Regions from separate parts of the Homo sapiens genome. Here region 2 is linked to region 1. The links come from fine-mapping of genetic effects on gene expression. Tissue or cell type: whole blood. Region 1 holds a variant in brackets; the other region holds the start of a gene. All regions are shown on one strand. Distances are between the middles of the regions.

The links. PIP is the estimated chance that this variant, and not a neighbour inherited with it, causes the effect.
Region 2: KRT77 starts here. The variant in region 1 is fine-mapped to the expression of KRT77 in whole blood (INTERVAL, PIP 0.98).

Annotation. Positions count from the first base shown.
Region 1 is chr12:52,746,087-52,750,930 of GRCh38, forward strand. It overlaps the pseudogene BTBD10P1. Among named protein-coding and RNA genes, the nearest start is that of KRT76, 29 kb to the right of the region's middle. The variant ATGATCC/A (reference allele first, on the strand shown) is at 2,061.
Region 2 is chr12:52,701,219-52,706,062 of GRCh38, forward strand. KRT77 (keratin 77) reads right to left here and starts at 2,306. Exons shown (of 9, transcript NM_175078.3): 1 at 1,674-2,306. The coding sequence starts at 2,216. RefSeq lists an enhancer at 379-548.

The DNA of each region.
Region 1 (4,844 bases):
CGGGTATCTTTTCCAGAGCACTGCACAGACTCCAACTGTCCAATGTTAACATTAACAAAGAAGGGAAGGTGGGGAAGAGCAACTGGTTCTGAGGAAAATGGAAACTCCAGCTTAAAGTGTAGGGACAGCAGGCTGTTAGGACTACCTGGTACTCATCTTTGTATTCTCCACCACACCAGGATTCACTGACATTTGCCTTTCGGTGCACTATATGTCTATTAGGAGGCAGGCTCTTAGTGTTCTGCTCTAGCAAATATTATAAAAGTTGTATCTCTGAGCCCAAAGAGAGAGTGCTGAGCAGTACAGTCCACTTCATCGAGCACTTGTTGAGCCCTTCCTTTGTCCCCTGCCACTGTGTTAGAGCCTCCGTATACCAAGGGGAAGGAAATGCAGAGACAAAAATCACTGTAACACAGTATAGCTAACCAAAGGACCACATAATCCTGTGAAATGGGTTTCTCAAGTTGGGTTCTGTGCCTTGACCAGAGAGTGCCTACGCTGCCGTACTCCTCGCCCTCCAACATCTTCTGGTAGGTGGCGGTCTCCACATCCAGCCCAGCTTGATGTTCAGCAGCTCTTGGTAGTCACACGGAAGATGAGCCTGGTCCTCCCTGGCCTGCTGCAGGGCATCTCTGAGCTCTGCCAACTTGGCCTGGGCATCCTTGAGGGTCAGCATCGCCCCCTGCTCCATGCTGCTCAGTGTCAGCAATTGCCACCTCCAGGTTAGCATTCCGAAGCAGGAGGAGGAAGTGCACTGAGTCCCTGGATCCAACTGCATATGTAGCAGGTGAACACAGGTCTCCATCTTTCCCGTTAGTGAAAATCTTTAATCTGTGTGCTATGTGGCTGGTGATGCTAACTTCTGCTCATAGCATTCACATCCATATAAAATAAACCATACTGGGAAACTCCAATGATTGTCGAGCCTTTACCCAGAGATAGTGGTCACCTGCTTCCCACCTCTTGGGAAGGAATAATCCATGTTCTGAGATCCCAGAAACTCAATGCCACATAGTTTATGAAGTTTTGGGGACCATGTCTACCAGATTGAGAGAAGATCATTCTGCCTTTAAGTTGATGGATGTAAGTTAAGACAGCGTAAAGTCCTTGTTCTATGTGGTACCACTTGGCAAGCCCAGTTGCAAAAGGTCCCAATCAGGAGTCTGAAAAGCTGCCCTACCTGCTAGGTCCAGGTGGCTCCTCTGGCATCCCAGGACACCACTTTCATCAGAGCCATAATCCTGGGCTTTGAGGAACTGCCCCCACCTGCTTGTTGATGTTCTCAATCTCTGCCTGCAGCCTGTGGATCATCCTGCTGAGCTCCGCAATCTCATTTTTGGTGCTCCTCAAGTCATCATCATGTCTTCTGGCTGTGGTCTACAGCTCCCCAGGCTACAGCTGGGTGAACAGAGAGAGCAGGTAGGGAAAGATTATCCCTGACCCTGAAACATGTGTATGAAAAGGGCAATAGAATCAATCCAGAAAGTCCTAATTCACATAAAGCCCACCAGGCACGTAGAGTGGAAAGAATCACTTAACTGAAACTCACAGTTGCCCTTAAAGATATCGGGTAGTCAAATGAAAAGCACTATAAGGACTCTACAAGTTTATGGGGCTGGGCACAGTGGCTGACACCTGTAATTCCAGATACTTGGGAGACCAGGGCGGGTAGATCACTTGGGGTCAAAAGTTCAAGACCAGCCTAGCCAATATGGTGAAATGCTGTCTCTACTAAAAACACAAAAATTATCTGGGCATACAGGTGCAAGCCTATAATCCCAGCTACTCAGGAGGCTGAGGCAGGAGAATCGCTTGAAACTAGGAGGCAGAGAGGTTGCAGTGAGCCGAGATTGTGCCACTGCAGTCCAGCCTGGGCAACAGAGTGAGTGAGACTCCATCTCAAAAAAAAAAAAAAGATTCTGCAAGTTATGGAAATTTGTGAAAGAAATTTCAATAGGTTTCCTAGTGAATAAAATATGTATTCTCTGGGATGGTGCCAGAAAGGCTGGAGGTAAAGTTCAGAAGCCCTGGAAAAGGCTGGTGGGGTCCAGATTGATCCA[ATGATCC/A]TTATTTACCTTGGTCTGGTACAGGGTCTGGGCCTTGGCCTTGCTCTTCTAAGCCATCTCCTCATACTAGGCCTTGACCTTGGCAATGATGCTGTTGAGGTCCAGGTGCCAGTTATTATCCACAGATAGGACCACAGACATATCACTGGATTGCGACAGGCCTGGTTATACTCCTACAAGCACAGAGGGGCACACCACTGGGCAGTTGTAACCATCTCTCTAGGATGCCCTGAACCGACCATCCATTGGCTCAGGAATGTTATGAGGTCGAAAAAACTAAATCTGTTTTTATTGCCCAGACAGCCCATGCAGGTGACTCTGGATGTTTCCTAGGTGGCCAAACTGAAGGAGTTTCAGCTGGCACACGGGTTCCCGCCAACCGAGCATTTAAAAATAAGCAGCAGGGGATGCTAGGGAACAGAGTGTGTCCCTCAAGACGACCAACTCTCATCAGTTCCAGTTGGTCCACACCGGCAGAAGCGATTTTGGAGTTTGCTTTGATGAGGAAAATGCTTTCCCTGAGTAGTCCCTGCGGTATTTCTCCAACTCTGTGACTGAAACGCTGTCTGCTTTTCTCTAACCGTGACAGGAAGTCAAGGGGAAACCGTGGGATTCAAAGGTTTGAAGTACTTCCTCGCGTACTGCTAAAGGAGTCGACCACACCAAAATGAGTCTACGTGATGCTAGTGGGGGACATAAGAGATCAAGAGATAGACGAAGGTCAAGTGACAGATCACGAGATTCATCTCATGAAAGAACAGAGTCTCAACTCACTCCTTGTATTAGAAATGTGACTTCTCCAACACGACAGCACCATGTTGAACAAGAAAAAGACTGCAGTTCCTCTCGTCCAAGCAGTCTGCGTCCTCAAAAAGCATCCCCAATTGGTTCCATTAGCAGTGCTGGGAACAGCAGCAGAAACAGTAGTCAGTCAAGTTCAGGTGGTAGCTGTAAGACATCTGGGGAGATGGTGTTTGTATATGAAAATGCAAAAGAAGGAGCTCAATATAAGAATGTCAGAACGAGTGACACTAATAGTGGATAACACTAGATTTGTTGTAGACCCATCCATTTTTACTGCACAGCCAAATACAATGTTGGGCAAGATGTTTGGATCTGGCCGAGAACATAACTTTACACGACCCAATAAGAAAGAAGAGTATGAGGTGGCAGAGGGGATTGGTTCCACTGTGTTTTGAGCTATTCCGGATTACTATAAAACAGGAATAATCCATTGTCCTGATGGCATATCTATTCCTGAAGTGAGAGAAGCATGTGACTGTCTTTGTATCTCTTTTGAATATAGTACTGTTAAATGTAGAGATCTCAGTGCCCTAATGCATGAGTTATCAAATGATGGTGCTCATAGACAATTTGAATTTTATCTGGAAGAAATGATCCTCCCTCTCATGGTAGCTAGTGCCCGGAGTGGGGAACGGGAATGTCATATAGTGGTACTTACAGATGATGATGTGGTTGATTGGGATGAAGAATATCCACCACAGATGGATATTCACAAATTATTTATAGCACAAGAATATTCACAAATTATTTATAGCACAAAATTATATAGATTTTTCAAGTACATTGAAAACAGAGATGTGGCCAAGTCAGTTTTGAAGGAGAGGGGTCTTAAGAAGATTAGATTGGGAATAGAAGGTTATCCTACCTACAAAGAAAAAGTAAAGAAAAGGCCTGGAGGCCACCCAGAAGTTATCTACAACTATGTCCAAAGACCCTTTATTTGAATGTCCTGGGAGAAGGAGGAAGGAAAGAGTCGGCATGTAGACTTTCAGTGTGTAAAGAGTAAATCTATCACCAACCTTGCAGCAGCTGTGGCAGACATTCCCCAGGACCAGCTGGTAGTCATGCACCCAACTCCACAAGTGGATGAGCTGGATATTCTCCCTATCCATCTGCCTTCTGGCAACGGTGGCCTTGATCCGATCCTGATGCACAGAATCCAGTGCTGTAATGCTGATGTTCCTTGAAACCATAACATGCTACTCTTCACAGTGACCTTGTACTCTCCTCATTCTGCAATGCAAGGCCACTCTTCTTCATTGAGATGCACATAACAATGCTTAGGATGTTGCAGTGTAGGCTTTTTCAAGACCAAAGGTAGCTGAATGGTTTTTTTAAATGAGTACAACTCTAGGATTTTGAAGTTCCAGTTATATAAATGTATTTGTTTACCAGTAGGTTTGTGAAATTTGTTCTTTGTATGGCAGACTGTCCTTTTTCACACATCTAGGTCTTTTCAAAAGTGGTGGAAATTGGCAGCTGGGGTACTTTCAGTTTGGATTGATATTCACCACACCCCAGATAAAATGCAGAGTATTATAGAGTTGCACTTTATAGATGGTGGTTAAATGGAAATGTTCAAGCCATTTTATAGTTGTGATGCACAATATAATTTAAGTGCTTCTGTCAAAGTATTCCTCCAGTAAAATTTGTATAGTTTGCTGCCCTTGATGAGCAAAAAGTATTTATCTTGGACGTACCCGAATGATCTGGATGAGATTTAATGCTCATATCTTATCAGTTCAGTTATCTCCAGGGCTGTTTCACCCTTTAGAGTGAGTCATATGCAGAGAGTGTGAATGTCAGAGGTGGTTTATTATCCAGTCTGCCTTACCCTTAATCTGTTCACAGATATTTATTTACTTATGCTTTTTTTTTCTCAAGAGTTATGGGATAGGAAAATGAAGTGTTTGCTCTTCATTTACTAAATGATTATAAACTTCAATTTTTCGTCAAAATAAAATTCCATTGTTT
Region 2 (4,844 bases), 45 kb before region 1:
CGAGTAGTGACTCCTTGCTCCAGTGAAACCCTCTAACCCCTGCCTTTGCCTGAAGCGTGGTGATACTCAGCCAAATTTCCCACGCAGCATGATCGGAAGCCACGGGAGCACGCTGCTGTGTTGCGCTCCTCTTCGGCAGCCTCTGGGCCTCAGCACTCTCACCCTCCTCCGCCCGCTCACACACTGTCCCATCCCCAGCATCTGCTCAGATATCAGAGGCCTGCCCTGCCACCCAGTATGGCCTCTAGCCACAGCTACCCTGCAGTCAGGCCACAGGTCAAGCTCTGGCCTCAGCACTGAACTCCCGTGGGGACTGAGGGAAAGTCACTGAGTGTGCAAGCGGCCTTGGTGCTCTGTGGGGCTTCCCACTGCATCCCTGAAGGCAAAGTTCCTCCTGGGGAGGTGCTAGTGGCCGCTGTGCCTCGACCTCCAGACAAAAGGAGATGCTGGAGGGAGGTCTTCACCATGGCGAGTTCTCCAGCCTCTGCTGCTGCTTTGGACCTAATCTGAAGTTTCAACAGGGAACTAGGGACAGGGGCTTCTGTGTCTCCATCTGGCCCATCCTTGGCCCTTGATGAGCCAAAAGGGGAAACTCAGACAGAACCCTACATTGCATGCTATTGACTTTAGCCCCAAGAGATACCCACCACCAGGGCATTCACCATGCCCTGCCTGCTTCTCCTGCCCTGGCTCTGTGGCTTCATCTCCACTTCTCTCCTCCACCCCTTGGTATCCCATTTTCTCCAGGAATTGTAACTGTTTGAAATTCCCTAAACGCGTCACGCTTTCATGCCTCCTGGTCCTTCTGCCTGAAAATCCCCTCTGCCCTGAGAACCCATTTAACTCGTGCTCACTTCGGCAGCACATATACTAAAATTAGAACCCATTTAACTTTTCATCCGCCTTCCAGACTCAGCAAGCAGAGCTCATGACACCCTCCTTTGAGCTACCATGGCCCAGAGAGTACTACCCCTATTGACACACTTCACATACACTGTAGTAATTCTCTCCCCTTTAGACGTGGGCTCCTTGATGGCAGGACCTGTGTCCTAGTCACCTGTAGCACCTGGCACGATGTCTGGCCTATCATAGATTCTTAGAAAATATTTGTGGGCTAGATGGGTGGATGGATGCATGAGTGGATAGTTGAATGGATTGATGGATGAGTGAATGAACAGATGAACACGTGTGTGTGTGTGCATGTGTGTGTGTGTGTGTATAAATGGATTGTGTGGATGGGTGGGTGGATGGATGGATGGACGGAAGGGTGGATAGTTGGGTGGATTGATGAATAAGTGAATGGATGGATGTGTGTGTGTGTGTGTGTGTGTGTGTTTGTGTGTGTGTGTATAAATGGATTGTGTGGATGGGGATGGATAGATGGGTGCATGGGTGGATGGGTGGATGGAAAGTGAATAATTATGAATGAGAATGAGGGTACTACACCATGTATCTGTTGAGTATTTTAACACTGCTTATCTCCTTTCCTGCCAAAAGGAAAAGATGGAATTAAATCCCTGCAAGAAGACAAATTGAAGCCCAAATGGGTAAATGATTTTCTAAGGTCCCAGGTCAAGCTGAAACAGCACGATGTGGTGAGAGGTGGTAAGGTGTAATCTCTCTCAGTCATTTGGTCAGTGACCAATGACCCTCCCTGCCCCTGAGGTGCTCACCTTGTCAATGAAGGAGGCAAACTTGTTGTTGAGAACCATAATCTGCTCCCGCTCCTGGGTCTTGATCCTCTGAATTTCAGGGTCCACCTCCAGGTGAAGTGGCTCTAGGAGGCTCTGGTTAATGGTCACCTCTTGGATGCCCCCAGGAGGACAATAAGGACCAAAGCCCCCAAGCCCAAAATTGCTAGTCCCAAATCCAGCACCCCCAAAACCACCTCCTCCAAAGCCACCAGCCCCGGTGCTGCCAACCCCAAAGCCTCTGCCCCCTCCAAATCCCCCTACTCCCCCACCCTGGCAGAAACCACTGGTGCTCCTCCCCATTAGATTAATGGAGATGCTTCTACTGCCACCCAGATTGTAGAGGCTCCTAGAGCCAAACCCCCTTCCATGGATCCCATATCCACCACCACCACACCTCCCTCGAGCATAACACACAGAACCCACTGCCGGACTCCCACCACCAGAGCCTGCAGAAGAGCTGGTACTATAAACCCGCCTGCTCATTGAACTAAACGCGGACTGAGAACTAAATTGGTGGCTCATGTTTGCTGGAGCATCCAGAGAAGCAGGCAAGAGAAAGAGCCTGGCAGGAAGGAGGCAGAGACCAGAGAGGAAAGGAGCTCTGACTCCTTTGAAAAGATCTGGCTCCGGCTCTATATATATACACACACACACACATTACTGGGCTGGGCACCTTTACAATCCTGAAAGGGGAGTATTAATGTTTAGTTTGCCTGCCAGCAACATCTGTTTAAAACCTCACACCTGTGAGTTGCAGAAATCAGATTGCAGACAAACTTCCCCAACTCGATCATTTATCATTCATCTCTTGCCATTTAGAGATCAGAATGCAAGAATCTCTCAGGATCTCATTGCTGGAAACTTCTATACAGATTCTCCCCAAATCATCAGTTCATCTCTTCCTAAGAAACTCCACCATCGAGTTGTTTGTTTCTGGGATGTGCCTGGGAGATCTGGGGCAAAGTTAGATGGTGTTTAGAGACCTCAGGACCATAGCTGGGACAGAGGTGGAAACACTTTCTGTCACAGCATCGTCCTGGTGGGGCAAAAGTTTTGTTCCAATCTCCCCACACACTGCTTCTGCTCCCTGCAGTTATCATCACCATGAGCACCCAAAATTTTATCACATGGAAGTGCAATATTGTGGTCACTGAGTACAAGTGGAGGCCCACAGATTCTGCCCAAGGTCATTCACATTGTGTGCTGCTTGATAAGCCTCAGACTTCTCAAACACAAAACCACACAAGGTACTTCAGCACCAAAAGTCTGTGGTTATAGATTTGTTGAGCATCTACCAGTACCTAATATTGTCTTCTAGACCAGAAGACAAACCATCCCTAACTATCTCTCTTTCTGTTTTATCATTTCCGGTTCTTTATAGACAATACTTTTGTAAAATAGAATTAAAGGAATTACCTCCTAAAGATAATTTTTTAAAAAAGATATACAAAATGCAAGCCCAAATTTTTTTTATTTTTAGATTCAGCAAACAAAACATTGTTTAACTGCTAAAAATAGCAACAATAATAATAATTTTCTAAATGGTTACTCTCAAATTCTGTGCTTACCACAAGGCAATAGCAAAGCACGGTAGACCAGCACTAATCTGTGCTCACCCTCTGAGAAGCACGTCCCAGACAGCATCCTGGGGAAAAGCTCATTCAGTGAGCATCAGTGTCCGCCAACAAAAAAATGTGCGTTTTCCCTCTGGACTCAAATAGCTGTGGCTTTCATCCAAAATGTAATAATAATTTTTTTAACTTGGGGAAAAACTCTCCAGCCTTAGAAAAATGGCTAAGCGATGGCTTGCCCAATTGGATACAATTATTTTAAATCATCTTGTTGGAGACTCTGCAGCAGAACCGGCAACCACTTGTGATACTATGTACCATATTAAAGGGAAAGGGCAGACTACATGATGGAGTCTGCGCTGTGAACTCATAAGAATTAAGAATGCAGAAGGCCGGGTGCAATAGCTCACTCCTGTAATCCCAGCACTGTGGGAGGCCAAGGCAAGCAGATCACTTGAGCCCAGGAGTTCAAAACCAGCCTGGCCAATATGGCGAAACCCCATCTCTACTGAAAATACAAAAAATTAACCAGGTGTGGTAGCACACTCCTGTAGTCCCAGCTCCCACGGGTCAGGGGGGCTGAGGTAGGAGGATCACTTGAGCCTGGGAGGTCAAGGCTGCAGTGAGCCCTTATCGTGCCACTGCACTCCAGCCTGGGCAAGAGAATGAGACCCTCTCTCAAAAAAAAAAAAAAAAATGCAGATAAGACAGACTTTGTGAGTAACTAGAAAGTGAGTTGATTTATTTAGAGACTGTGGGAGGAGTTTTCCTAGGTTCTTTTGTTTGTTTGCTTATTTTTTTGAGACAGAGTCTTGCACTGTTGCCCTGGCTGGAGTGCAGTGGCACAATCTTGGCTCGCTGCAACCTCTGCCTCCTGGGTTCAAGCGATTCTCCTGTCTCAGCCTCCTGAGTAACTGGGATTGCAGGTGCCTACCACCACGCCTGGCTAATTTTTTGTATTTTTAATAAAGACAGGGTTTCACCATATTGGCCAGCCTGGTCTAGAACTCCTGACCTCAGGTGATCCACCTGCCTCAGCCTCCCAAAGTGCTGGGATTACAGGCGTGAGCTACTGTGCCCGGCTGAATTTTCCTGGTGTTTTAAATGTCCTTTTTCTTTATGTTCATTGCAATAAATATTTTTTGCTCACGCCTTTAATCCCAGCACTTTTGGAAGCCAAGGCAGGCGGATCACCTGAGGTTAGGAGTTCGAGACCAGCCTGACCAACATGGAGAATGCCATCTCTACTAAAAATACAAAAAATTAGCCGGGCATGGTGGCACATCTGTAATCCCAGCCACTTGGGAGGCTGAGGCAGTAGAATCACTTGAACCCAAGAGGCAGAGGTTGTGGTGAGCCGAGATTGCACCATTGCACTCTAGCCTGGGCAACAAGAGTGAAACTCCACCTCAAAAAAAAAAAGAAAGTTGTGGCAGAAATCCCAATAGAGGTGGGGAAGAACAGGTGGTAGAAACAAGAGCACTGTGGGGGCGCCGCAGTGAAAAGTCATCCTGGTACAGGGAAATGCTCCAAGGGCAATTCCAAGCTTCCACACCCTCTTCTCATGAACCTCTGCATT